2 linked regions of the Homo sapiens genome follow. The protein of the gene in region 1 purifies or fractionates together with the protein of each later gene. This does not show direct contact. Each region holds a gene or a part of one and is shown in the gene's direction. Other genes may lie near its edges.

Evidence for each region. The genes of interacting proteins can lie anywhere in the genome.
Region 2: the proteins of TMEM87A (region 1) and UBR3 purify together in Homo sapiens (co-immunoprecipitation; 2 studies listed by BioGRID and IntAct, with this or other methods). This does not show direct contact.

Annotation. Positions count from the first base shown.
Region 1 is NC_000015.10:42,270,407-42,277,737, reverse strand, and holds the start of TMEM87A (transmembrane protein 87A isoform 1 precursor), read left to right. Parts: upstream 1-4,304; 5' UTR 4,305-4,339; coding exon 4,340-4,483; exon of another isoform or gene 4,484-4,537; intron 4,538-4,672; exon of another isoform or gene 4,673-4,849; intron 4,850-5,614; coding exon 5,615-5,675; intron 5,676-7,331. Other genes in the region: GANC (neutral alpha-glucosidase C), read right to left, coding at 1,328-1,390, 3,228-3,256. UniProt on the Homo sapiens protein: Potential monoatomic ion channel gated by mechanical force, implicated in normal touch sensitivity through the generation of mechanically activated currents.
Region 2 is NC_000002.12:169,949,438-169,956,464, forward strand, and holds part of UBR3 (E3 ubiquitin-protein ligase UBR3), read left to right. Parts: intron 1-167; coding exon 168-628; intron 629-7,027. UniProt on the Homo sapiens protein: E3 ubiquitin-protein ligase which is a component of the N-end rule pathway. Does not bind to proteins bearing specific N-terminal residues that are destabilizing according to the N-end rule, leading to their ubiquitination and subsequent degradation.

The DNA of each region.
Region 1 (7,331 bases):
TCCCAGCTAGTCGGGAGGCTGAGGCAGAAGAATCGCTTGAACCCAGGAGGTGGAGGTTGTGGTGGGCAGTGATTGCGCCACTGCACTCCAGCCTGGGTGACAGAGGGAGACTCCGTCTCAAAAAAATGCATAAAAATAAAATAAAATGAAGATTTTAAAGGCATATTTTTTGTAGCTCTGGAGAAACAGGCAATCTTTTTTTTTTTTTAGACGGAGTTTCACTCTTGTTGCCCAGGCTGGAGTGCAATGGCACAATCTCGGCTCACCACAATCTCTGCCTCCCAGGTTCAAGCAATTCTCCTGCCTCAGCCTCCCAAGTAGCTGGGATTACAGGCATGCGCCACCATGCCTGGCTAATTTTGTATTTTTAGTAGAGACGGGGTTTCTGCATGTTGGTCAGGCTGGTCTCAAACTCCCAACCTCAGGTGATCCGCCTGCCTTGGCCTCCCGAAGTGCTGGGATTACAGGTGTGAGCCACCTCGCCCAGCCAGGCAATCTTATATAATGTTGATAGGAGTACAAATGGTATAATTCCTATGGAGGGAAATCTGGTAATAGTTAACACATTTCAAATGCATTTACTCTTTGACCCAGTAATCTCACTCCTAGAAAGGTATCCTATAAATACACCTGCATGTGTAGAAAATGACCTATGTATAGCTCTTCATTGTGGTAGTGCTATTTTAGCAAAAGATTAAAAACAACCCAAGGGTCTAGCAATAAGAGACAGACTGAATAAATTATATTAATAGTATATCTACCCCATGGAATATTATGCAGCTGTAAAAAGGAGAAACAATCTCCATGCACTCATATGAATTTCTCCTCAGAACAAACTATAAAGCAGGAAAAAAAACCTATTTGGTATAAAAAGGGGTGATTAAAAAAAGAGAAAAGCAATAATATAAAAATACATGTATTTACAAAAAAATACTGGAAGGATAAATAAGAAATGAAGAAATTCGGTTATTCGGGACAAGATGAGGAATGGGTAGAAGGGGACAGGAGTGGAAGCAACATTTTTCAATGTATAGCTCTTTATATTATTTTTGAACCATGTAAAAGTGTTATCTATTCAAAGCGTCAAAATTTAAAACTAGTTTAAAAATATTTTGGCTTTTAAAATAAAATAGCTGTTTATTGAAAAATTTAAATACTTCAGGAGTAAATGTATAAAGTTAAAAGTGAGTCTCCTGTCTGATGATTTCCTTAATTATTAAATTATCCTTTCCTTGGAAAGTCTATCAGTTCCAAAAATTTAATAAGCATCAATTTTGAAATACTGTCAGAGATGTTTTGATCTAGCTACTATATTTATTTTCCTTACCTGTAAAATGCGATCTTGTTACAGTCTCTGAAAATGTTTTTATCTACAGCTTCATCTTCAAGACTAAATAAAAAGACATTTTGAGAAATTTATTTCACACAGGGCTTGTGAATCCAACTTTTGTACCTTCTCTAACGACAGTATGAACATGCAAAATAAACCTTTGGAGTCTATTCTGCAATGCAAAATTGTGTCACGGCCACAGTATAACATAATAGCACATTATGTTGCAGAACAATAGCCTTTTGTAAACCCTCTGAGGTAAACAACAAAACATCAGGTTCTGGGATTACTCCAAAAGTAATGGGAAAAGATCACTGTCACTTATGAGGACATATTCTTTTGAAATAATGACTGAAGGCTATGACCACAAAAGTAAAATCTGAAGGAGGAAAACCAAAACAGCATCCCAAAACGAACAAACCAAAACCAACCAACCAGACAAACTAAGAACCATAACCCACCCACCGATTTATTCAAGAAAATATTTTCAGAATATTCTTCCTGAGAGCTGGGCTCTGAGGAAGATATGAACTGTGTTCAAGCTATCAGTTAGGGTTTTACCAGCAATCACAATACAAGCTGACAAATGCTTTAATAGAGGTGCAAGGTGCTAGAATAAGAACAGAACAGACGTAGAAGGGGAATTTCTTGCTTTTTAAGATGAGGTGACAAACTAGGGGCCATGTTTTTTAAAACCAAGTTTCCAGAAGAGCTGTTTCTGGGATAAAACATGAATGAGATATATGTATATTGAAGTTTGAGTATATGTATTTAAACTAGCCTCCATCTGATTAAAACAACTACAGATTATAAGGAGAAAAAAAAATTACACCGGCTTTCATGCACTAGTGTGGCCGAATGCATCTGTAGTCAGCATGTCCATGATTATGTAGAAAGCTATGACTGAACACAAACGTCGAAATATTATGAAAACAAGCCCAGGCAGATATACTTGGCCATACTAAAAAACTGTTTGTCCTTCACTGAACTCAGTCTTTGTCCGTTTATTTTAATTTATTAAAAAAATTTTTTTTGAGACAGGATCTCGCTCTGCCTCCTACGTTGGAGTGAAGTGGCACGATCTTGGCTTGCTGCAACTGCCGCCTCCTGGGCTCAGGCTATCTTCCTGCCTCAGCCTCCTGAGTAGCTGGGACTACAGGCCCACATCACCACGTCTGGCTAACTTTAAAATTTTTGTAGAGACAGGGATTCAGCATGTTGCCCAGGCTGGTCTGAACTCCTGGGTTCAAGCAATCTGCCCACCTATAGGCCTCCCAAAGTGCTGGGATTACAGGCATGAGCGAACCGGCCCAGTTTATTTTAATCAAGTGTACAAAGATTGGAGAATCTTTTGTTTCCTCTTTACAGCTTCGAAGAATTAACTCTGGGATGATATAGGAAGGGGTGATTATAGATGAATTTGGAAAGCAACATGCCTGAAATTCACGTGTTAAGAGTTCTGATTGCAACTTTTCCACTGTTAATGTTATTTAACCATCCTTTTTTTTTGGAGACAGGGTCTCACTTTGTTGCCCAAGCAGTGGCAAGATCACAGCTCCACTGCAGCCTCCAAATCCATCCTCCCAGTGGTCTCCCAAGTAGCTGGGACTCCGAGGGGGCGGGGAGGGGGTCTCGAACTCCTGAACTCAAGCGATCCTCCCACCTTAGCCTCCCAAAGTGCTGTGGGATTACCTGCGTGAGCCACTGCACCCGGCCTATTTAACCATCCTGAAAGTATTTTATGAGAGGCTATTAATATCAACTAACTTCCCGCGAATTGAGAGAAAAGATAAAGGTCAGCAAATACCAAATACGCAAATAAGAAATGCAATTAAAACACTATTCCCTGTTTCTAGGGACCCTGGGGTCACTCGCTACAGAAGCACTTGGCCTTTACCTTATTTCCTCTTTCACTGCTGCTTCCATGGCTTCTCTGTCACTCCGACCAGCTCCCAGCTCTCAGGACAAGGGCCCTGGGCGATCTTTTAAAAAAGCCGATTGGGTGTCTTTCTAAAATTACAACCAGTACTTCATCGTCAAGTTTCTGGGAAGGGAGTCCCCTCCAGATTCTCATGGAGTGACAAATCTTGACTCTTGCTCCTGGAATTTTTCAGGCCCAAACTAGCGTTTCTACAATGATTTATTTGGCAAATTTGTCTTGATTATGGGTGGCTGATGAGGAACGTGCTTTTGTTAGGAACCGAAACTGGGCGGCGGTGAGGGCGTGTACGCAATGAGTCCTAGAGGGTAAAAATCAAGAGCGTTAAGAACCTGGAAATGCCGAGACGGCCTCCCTGACTGGGACGAAGCATCTGCAGATCTATCTCAGTGGCGGGGTCACGCCACAGATTTTGAAAACTGACCCTCTCTGTCTCCGTTTTCGGTTAAGGGTGGGAAGTGCCGGCCGGGTCTTTGCTGGAGGCTAGGTCTCCAGCCAGATTGTACTGCAGCATCGTACTCTTCAGGGCTAGAAGGGGCCTTTGAAGGTTGTTACACTACCCAGTCTAGGAATCGCGTGTACTCCACCACCGCCGAATTCCAGCCTTTGCTTAAATACCACCCAAACCGGAGAACTCACTACTAGACGCCACTTGGGCAGCCAGGCTTAGGGCTTTTCCAGACTTTCTGGCCCCAAAGTCTGACATTGACTTAGAAGGGATGAAGGGCTGGGGCGAGCGGAAGTAGAGAGCCAAATCCTGCACGGGGTGCCTGCCTGGTCCTAAAACCTTTAACGGCTGGGAGACAGAAAAGACTCAGGCCAGGCTGGCATGTAGCGATCTCTCTAACCCAGCTGACCAGGTTCCAACAGGATGACGCCTGCGCAGTAGGTCCAAAGTCTCACGGCGCACAGACGACTGTCTGAGAGAGGGGCCGCTACGCCGCACAGCAAACAAGCTCCGCGACGTTTCCAGGACCCGGATAATCCCGCCCTTAGAGCAGAGCCGGAAGAAGGCGGGACGAACCGGAAGAGGGTGAAATGCTTTCGGTAGGCACTCCACGGCTGTGAAGATGGCGGCGGCTGCGTGGCTTCAGGTGTTGCCTGTCATTCTTCTGCTTCTGGGAGCTCACCCGTCACCACTGTCGTTTTTCAGTGCGGGACCGGCAACCGTAGCTGCTGCCGACCGGTCCAAATGGCACATTCCGATACCGTCGGTGAGTATTCACTTCACTAACGTCTGAACCTAGAGGAGCAAGGGGTGGGGCTACGGCGGCCCAAGGGGTCCATGAAGGTTCCGCAAAAGTCTCTTCAAAAGGGGTGGGGTTGCTGGGATGGTCTGTGTGGCTAGCCAACTGGGACCCACCTCCCTGGAGTGGAAAGCCGCGCACTTCTGTGATTAGGCTAGCGGGAATGTAAGGGCCACTTCAGCAACAGAAAGGAGTGGTGGAGCGGCTTCTCATCAGAAAAACAGAACTTTCAGTGCCTGACTTGAGATGTAAACTTGATGTACAAACGGAGAGTTGTTTATCTTTCAGATGTTTCACAGAATCCAGTGTCCCCGGGTTGGATAAGAAAGATATGTAAATAGGAGTCTTCATTTCTTTCTTTCTTTTTCTTCCTCTGCACTTCTTGGTCCCTGGGTAATTCTGCTTACGAGATGGTTCGACTTCGCTTCAACTTTGGAATGGCTATTCTAAGCTTTACTGTGTGACTAGAAAGCATAGAGATTTAAGAAATGTGTTTTAACATGGGAATGGTTAAAATTGAAGAAATAGTACTTAAAATTTAATGTGGTAAGGCTAGTCTTTCATTTGGATAATTAACTACATGGGTTGACCCTTTCTGCCCCTTACCCATTTTAAACCTTATTTCAGTAACAGGTATAGTCCTGTGAGCAGACAAAAACCAGATGCAGGGAGGAAATGCTGAAAAGCATTAGCCCCATTAAACCTACGTTGGCCTTTTTGTTTCATTCTGCTCTGCTCACTGACTGTAATGTCCAAATCTTATTTGGGCTTTTATTATGGTAAACGTTATACCTTTTGTTCAGTGGTGAAGATTTTCAGGTGTTCAGTTAGGTTTTTACTTGTTACTAAAATGGTTAATAGTTAAGTCTTTTTAGATTTGAAAATAAAACTCTGGTTATTTGCACACAGAATAGTTCATTAGAAAAAATGATTGGTTATTCTGAGCAGTGATTGGTGAGTAAAGGGAATGAACTGATTAAGGGGTACGTCCCATAAAGATTTAAGTTAAGTTGGAATTTCTAGCAGTCTTAGATAGTTATATGATGCTTTGGTAATTGAAGCCATCTGAGGCTAATTATCTTTCCTTTATGTTTGCAGGGGAAAAATTATTTTAGTTTTGGAAAGATCCTCTTCAGAAATACCACTATCTTCCTGAAGTGTGAGTTTTTGAATTTCATGAAGTTTTAATTTGAATTTTAAAAATTTATAGGTAATGTTTTAAATTACCTATTTTATAAGTTCTGAAATCTAATAGTCTGGCATTATCTAGGTATAAATATTTTTAGTATTACTAAGGTCCTTTTACTGAATCATCTTCAAAGTACTCGTGTGAACTTTATTTTCTTCTCTTGTTTTTCTGGTGTTTACATTGCATATATACACTATGTAGACATTATATATTAGTATATATAATGTATATATTAATATATATGCTGTATATACTACATTGAATATTCAGTCACATCTCAGTCGAATTACATTTACAGTTGATACTTTCTGAGAAAAGCATCCTTAGGTGATTTTGTCATTATGCAAACATCATAGAGTATACTTAAAACTGGATGGCACTACACGCCTAGTTTGTATGGTACAGCCTATTGCTCCTAGGCTATAAACCTGTATAACATGTTACTGTACTGAATGCTATAGGTGGTTGTAACACAATGGTAAGTTTTTGTATATCTAAACATAGGAAAGTAGAGTACAAATACGATATTACAATTTTATGGGACCCCCGTTGTATATGTAGTCTTTCATTTACTGAAATGTTATGTAGTGAATGACTGTGATTATGTTGGGGTTGATTCCCTGCATGGTGGTTTTAATCTGTTCTGTGTAGATTAAAGAGGTTTTACTCTTGTGTGCTTGTTAAATGTTTACTGCAAACATGACCTAGGTTTGTCAGGCCGTTGGCTGTGAAGGAATATATTTAGTAGATCCTTTATTTACAAAAGGAGTATTTTACTGCTTTGGAAGAGGAAGCTCAGATATTATCAAGAAATAGGGATTATGTAGAACAAAACTAGTTTGTCTAGTGGAAAAATGACTGTATCTGAATCTAAAGTATCCCATTGTGTGTTCAGTAAAAGCTTCCTTTTAGTTCTGAAACCGGCTTTAATTTAGAGAACGATTGATCGTGGGCAGCTTTATTTCTAGATGAGGGATAAAAATCCTGATGATAGATGTGTGATTCTATGCATACTGTCTTCACGGAAGTGCAAAATTTTAAGTCATAGTTGGATAATTTTATTCTTTTCAATTGTTTAGTGAGTAATTATTACTTATTGCATAGACTGTGGGGAAGTAATAGAAAAATGTTCTTCCCTCATCGAGCTTACATTCTAGTGGGAGTGAAAACAGCAGGTAGAATTTCTCTGAAGAATATATACTGTATCCATGAATATGTAATCAGTCTCCTGACCAGTGACTTATATTTGATTTAGATCAAATCTACTCTGACACTGGCCTTGTGAGATTGGTTTACTGGGTAACCTAGTAACCCTTGTCTTTTGGAATAGCTTGACAGCCTGTTTGCTGTTTTATTCTTTTATTAGGTCCAGTCTTTTTTTCTCGTGTAGTTTGATCTAGTGGTGTTTTGCCAAGTTAAACCAACTGCATTTTTTTTAAGATGGTGTCTCACTCTGTCACCCAGACTGGAGTGCAGTGGTACGATCTTGGCTTACTGCAACCTCCACCTCCCAGGTTCAAGCGATTCTCCTGCCTCAGCCTCCCGAGTAGCTGGGATTACAGGCATGAGTCTCTATGCCCAGCCCTAACTGCGTATTTTGAAGTGTTTATATTTCATTGTTTTTGG
Region 2 (7,027 bases), on another chromosome or scaffold:
ATTTGAGAGAGAGGTCAAGGGAGAAATTTATTTAAAGAGCAAATCTATTGAATAAATCTTTGTATGAAACTGAGCATTCCCTTTAGAAAATATAGTACTAATATGTTTTTAAAATGATGCTAAATAACTTCTCTTGATTTTTCTTTGTTTCTCTTTGTTAATGGTAGAATTCTGGTACAGCTCAAGTTTTCAGTTTAGTAGCAGAACGTAGAAAGAAATTTCAGGAAATCATCAATCGCAGTAGCAGTGAAGCAAATCAGGTGGTTCGTCCCAAAACTTCAAGTAAATGGTCTGCTCCTGGTTCAGCTCCACAGTTAACTACAGCCATTTTGGAAATTAAAGAAAGCATATTGTCTTTGCTAATTAAACTTCACCACAAACTCTCAGGAAAACAAAACTCCTACTATCCTCCTTGGCTTGATGACATAGAAATTTTAATCCAACCAGAAATTCCTAAATACAGTCATGGAGATGGTATAACTGCCGTGGAAAGAATTTTACTAAAAGCTGCATCGCAAAGTAGAATGAACAAACGCATCATTGAAGAGATATGTAGAAAAGTGACCCCTCCTGTACCACCTAAAAAAGTCACTGCAGCAGAGAAGAAAACATTGGACAAAGAAGAAAGGTAATTTTTATTTTTAATGTTTTAAACGTGTGTATAGTTGAAAATTTGATATTTTCTTCCTTTTGGTCATTTGAGGATAATCACCTGGATGTTTAACAGGAACAGTCATAGCTGATTAGTTTGTAACATAAATGGAATGGAGCATAGTCAGTGCTTGTACATGTGATGTATTGAGTTTATTGATGGACAGGTGAGACTTTCTGACCCCAATGTAAAATTACTACCTTAAACCTGTGTGTCTCTTTGGAAAAATTGCTACTGCTTTTATTGCTGTAGGGATCTAATAATTCTCTTACTGTTAAAGTTGAACTGTTCAGCTTTAAATGAGAATATTAAAAATATTTAAAATATTTCTCAAAATAAAAATCCAACTGCTTTAGTTTCTTTTGGTCTTTTCTAATCTTTATTAATATATGATTGCTGATTTTTAAAAAGTGATGTTTTAAAACACATTCTGACTAACTTATGCTTCTAGCTTTTGGATCTTTAGGTTGCTTATAATTTGTTGTTAAATTATATTTATAAACTTTTTTTTCATCTTTTGACTTTCTTGAAAAAAAAATGGGATTTTTTTAAAATCTCAAGATATATACTATGTTATGTGGGGTTTGTGGGTCAAGGACTATGAGCATGGTTTGGTTCTTTTTTTTAGTGGTACATTGTTTGCCAGAAGAGTTGTGTTACTGTGCATTGTCACAAATTGTTTCCCAAGAGCCTTGTCAACATTGCTGACCCTGCTGTCATAAACATGACAAGGTGAATCTTGAGAGATTGAAACTCTGCATAATTGTCAAACTCTTGGAAAGGGTTCAGTGTTTATTAAAGAAAAAAAAAAAGAGCATGCCTTCTAATGAGTGTACACAGGCTAAAAGACCCAGGACATTTAAAAAAAAGATTTCAGATCAAATTCAAGATAGTCATTGCTCACTTCTCTGAGGTTATAAATAATATTCATTGTTTTAATTTCTTTATTATTTAAGACAAATTTGTCTACCAAAGCAACAATTATAGGGGAAGGGTACACATTTCCCGTTAGGGAGGGTCCAAAGAGATCACATCAATATTATCTTAATTTAAGAACCTAGGACCTTTATCATCTCAATCTGTTTTATATAGGTAAAAATCATTGTCAACAGAGTTATCTGGACTACTGTTGTGAGCAGTATGACTAATACATTATTTAGCAGTTTGAAGTGTACTTTAGAGGTATTTTCTGGATAATTTCATCTTCTTAGTTACTTTTAAAATTAAATATAGGCAGTTATGGGTTAAATGATCAGTGGAAGCAAGCCTAAGATGGATCTTACTTGATTGATCCGTTTCTCATTCATTGGGTGTCAGTCAAGCAGTTTTCTAGACATATCTGTGTCTGGTGTTGGACTTCCTGACCTCGAGGAATTGATACTATAATGGAGAGACAGACTGGTAAACAGATAGTTTGTTAGTAGTGTTAACATAGTGTAACAGATACTATCTTAGGTACACAGGGTGTTAATGGGAGTAGTAGGACATAAGGCTAAGAAGGTAACCATGTATCGTTAACTCGCACAGGGTATAAATGGTTACAGGGAAACTGTGGAAGGATTTTAAGTGAGGAATAATATATAGGGTAATTACATGAGGGTAGATTAGAGTGGGGTAAGACTGGAAATTGGGAGAGCAAGCTACTTAGTCATCTAGTGGGGCAGGTGTGGTAAGGGTCTGAACTAAGACAGTGATGATAATAAAGAGAGGAGGAGATGTGTATGAGATATTTAGCAGGTACAAGTTGTTAGACTCAGTCATCAGGTTGATGTGAGAAATGAGGGAGATGTCTTGAATGGTGCCCTGATTTCTGACTTGAATAATGTTCCTTTTACCAAGATAATGGAGTGTAGGAGGGGTCCCAGGCTCATTAGTAAAAGTGATCTGTTCAGTTCTGGACGCTACTAAGTTTAAGAGGGACACCCAGGTGAAGGTGTCCAGTCAGATATAGGGTTTAAAACTTAAGGGAGAATTCTTAGAGCTACAGATTTGAGCAGCTAGGTAGTAGTAAATCCTTGTATATGGGAGAAGGTTTACAGTAAGAAAATGAGAAGACTGAATGTAGAACTTAAGGGAAAAACATTAAAGGGAATGACTGAGGAAGGGGTACCTACAAAGGTGACTGACGAAGGGATGGCTGAGCAGAGTAAGAGAAAAACTGGGGTGAGTGGCATTAGAGAAGTCACAAGAGGAAGTTCAGAAAGCAAGAAACTTATCAAAATTGTTAAGTGCTACAGGAGTTCAATAAGATTGGCCATCCTATTTGATTTGTTAGTTAGGAGGTCATCCGTTGGTACCTGTATAAGGAGCAATTTTAGTCACATATATAGTTACACTACATCTCTGATGTAATTAAAAGTTTGTTGGGAGGCCGAGGTGAGTGGATCACAAGGTCAGGAGATCAAGACCATCCTGGCCAACATGGTGAAACCTCGTCTCTACTAAAAACATAAAAATTAGCTGGGCGTGGTGGCGTGTGCCTGTAGTCCCAGCTACTAGGGAGGCTGAGGCAGGAGAATTGCTTGAACCTGGGAGACAGAGGTTGCAGTGAGCTGAGATCGCGCTGCTGCACTCCAGCCTGGCGACAGAATGAGACTCCATCTCAAAAAAAAAAGTTTGTTATAAAAAATTTATATTAATATATGCAAAAGCTTATGGTAGATTAAGAATTTAGGAGAATTCCTAAATTGGAGTTATAAAGAACTAACACAAAATTTGTTTCCGTGGGAGAAAGGACATTCAGTAACATATAATTCAGATGACCATTCATTAAGTTTGAATTAGTAATAGCCTAGAATGTAATAAATCTACTGACAAAATTAGAAGGTTGAAAATGAGGTAAGATTGTTATTTTTGTTAATTAGTGGTCTCTCTTAGTGGTCAGATCCTTCTTTCTGTTATATAATAGTATATCCTTTTATTTTGAAAGAAGATAAACAGTGAATCAAAATCTGTTTTTCTTGATTAAGGGAATTTTGTAATTATTACTAATAATGTGATACTGGAGGACATAGTTTAGATGCTGCTTTTACAAAGGCCCTGATGCTATTGTAATAAATAATATTCTAAAAATTTTAAAGGCTTTCTTTGTGATAGGTTTTGTTTTCTTTGAACAATGATGGTATTGACAAGGACTTGAAACTAATTTTGTAGCAGACAGCTAAGGATTAAGATGACTCTATTTGGATCTCACCGTGCTTCTCACATTTGTCTTTCCTCTGGTTTCGTTTTGGATTTTCATAATAAAGGCAGAACAGTTCATAAACACTTAATGAGGATCCATTTCCAAGTACTTCACCTTTAGACAAACTCAGCATCACTTTCATAATAGATTAACTTAATAGAAAACAAGATGCAAGCAGAAAACATTAGATGGTTGTAATAAAATGCAGCTTCAATGTCTTTAACCCAGGAGTTAATGGAAAATTTTTGAGTTGTCCTGAATCTGCCAGAACTTGTATATGTTCTTGTTAATGGCCTTTATTTACATTTATGCCCATTTAGAAAAGCAATAATCTCGATTAAGAAAACATTCACAACAATGACATCCCATTTCTGGTTAGTATAGAAACCTGCTATAGAAATGCATTTTAGTATTAGTGTCAAGCAGTTACATTTGAGGTTTTCTTATGTTTAATAGATTTTTAAAAAGTACACTCTATGGACATATGTATTCTAATTGTAAGTGTACATGTTTAAAGGTGAGCTGTAGAGTGAGTGGCATTAATTAAAGAAGTATGGCAAAACTTACAGATTTACGAACTAGTGATTCAGAAGACCAAAAATGTAGTCTGTCAATGCTGTTGTTGCTCATAGCATTTTTGGAGGTCACTTAGAGTGCTTTGAGCATCTAGAGCACATTTTTCTTTGCTTCCATTTCTTCCATTGTGGCAAATATTTGTCCTTTGAGGATGGATTTAATTTTAAAAAGCTTTTTATTTTGAAGTAATCTTAAACTTACATAAATGGTTCAGGAAGTTCTTTGTACCCTCAACTATCAGAATTAGCAGATTGATAGTGGTATTTGAGTATGATTTAGATCCCAAGTTTTGATAGTTGTCCCAATAATGTTTGATTTGTCTTGTCTTGTCTTGTCTTGTCTTGTCTTGTCTTGTCTTGTCTTGTCTTGTCTTGTCTTCTCTTCTTAATTCATTTCTTTTCTTTTCTTTGAGACAGGGTCTTGCTCTGTCACTCAGGCTGGAGTATAGTGGTATGATCACGGCTCACTGCAGCCTTGACCTCCTAGGCTCAAGTGATTCTCCCGCCTCAGCCTCCTGAACAGCTGGGACTACAGGTGTGTGCCACCATGCCTGGCTAATTTTTAAAAATTATTTGTAGAGATGAGGTCTTGCTATGTTGCCCAGGCTGGTCTCAAACTCCTGGGCTCAAGTGATCCCCCCGCCTCAGCCCCACAAAGTGGTGTGATAACAGGCATGAGCCGCTGCTCCTAGCCCCCAATAATATTTCTTTTGTTACTTACCTTTTTTTTTTTTTTTTCGTTTTTGAGACAGAGTCTCTTTCTGTCACCCAGGCTGGAGAGCAGTGGCGCGATCTCAGCTCACTGCAACCTCTGCCTCCTAGGTTCAAACAGTTCTCTGCCTCAGCCTCCCGAGTAGCTGGGATTACAGGTGCTTGCCACCATGCCCGGCTAATTTTTGTATTTTTAGTAGAGACAGGGTTTCACCATGTTGGCCAGGCTGGTCTTGAACTCCTGACCTTGTGATCCACCCGTCTCGGCATCCCAAAGTGCTGGGATTACAGGCGTGAGGCACTGTGCCCAGCCAGTAATATTTCTTATAGCAGAAAGATCCAGTTCATAATCACTCCTTGCATTTAGTTGTCATGCCTCTTTGTTCTCCTTCAATATGGAAGTTTTTGTTTTCATAACCTTGGCACTTTTAAAGATTATGAAGCAGTAGTAACATTGTAGAATATCCCTTAATTTGGGATTGTCTGTTTTCCCTTTATGTTTTGACTCAGTTTATACAACTTTGGCAGGAATGTAAATGAAGTGTTGCTGTTTTCTTTTCATTGTATCCCACAAGCTGTTATATGATTTCAATTTGTTTCATCACTGGTGATTAACTTTGATCATGTCTGCCAGACTTCTTCACAGTCAAATTACCTTTCCCACCCCACTTTACAATTAATACGTAATTTGTGGAGAGATACTATGAGATATTGTAATATCCCAATTCATATCAACTTTATATTCATTTATTTTTATCAGTGTGGACTCATGGGTTCCTATTTTATTTTATGGGTTATAATCTCATATGCTTGTTATTAATTTTGGTGCTCAAATTATTACAGATTTGGCCACTAGGAGTCATGTCAAGCTGGTTTCCGGGTCCTTTTGATCTATTCCCATCATTCTTTGAGCATATTCCTATTTTCTGGGGCAATAAGATGTTCCAGGCTTGGCCAGGTGTCGTGACTCACACCTGTAATCCCAGCACTTTGGGAGGCTGAGGCGGGCAGATCACCTGAGGTCAGGAGTTCGAGATCAGCCTGGCCAATGTGGAGAAACCCTGTCTCTACTAAAAATACAAAAATTAGTTGGGCATGGTGGTGCGTGCCTGTAATCCCGGCTACTCAAGAGGCTGAAGCATGAGAATTGCTTGAACCTGGGAGGCAGAGGTTGCAGTGACCTTAGATCGTGCCACTGCACTCCAGCTTGGGCCATAGAGTGAGACTCCATCTCAAAAAAAAAAAAAAAAAAGATGTTGCAGGCTTATCCTGTACTTGGAGTCAGCCATTTCTCCAAGGAGTCCTGGTTGCTTTTAGGAGAGAATGGTATTTAGAAACCCCAGTCCATGTGTTTATTCTAATGAAGTATAGCTGTCTCAGGCCCTCTTAGGACAGAGCTGGGGAAAATTGTGTGTGTGTTTCTTTGTTTGTCTGTGTTTGTGTTGGAAGGTAGTGTGAGAGAGGAAGGGAGAAATTTATATTTAGTTTTATGTCTGACTTTATGTACTGAAAACTGTGAGTTCACTCTGATACTTTCAATTCCAATCCATCCCTCTAGGAGTCATTCTTGTTTTCTCTCTTTCTCAGTTTCCAGAGTAACTCTGTAACTCTCTACTTCTGCAGTGAGATACCTGACACCTATAACTCTCTCTCTCTCTCTCTCTCTATCTGTGTATCTATCTATCTGGATAGATATATTTAACTTTTTTAGTTAAAAATTACATATATTTAACTAAAATGTTATATATATATATATAACTTTTTTAAAAATCAACTCCCTTATATATAACCACTTTCTTCTAATCTTTTACCATACAAATGCCCTCCCGTGCCAGGTTGTCGAGTCCTGACACTCTGTGCTAGGACATGTTCAGAAAGGGAAGAGAGGGGATGGGTAGATTTAAT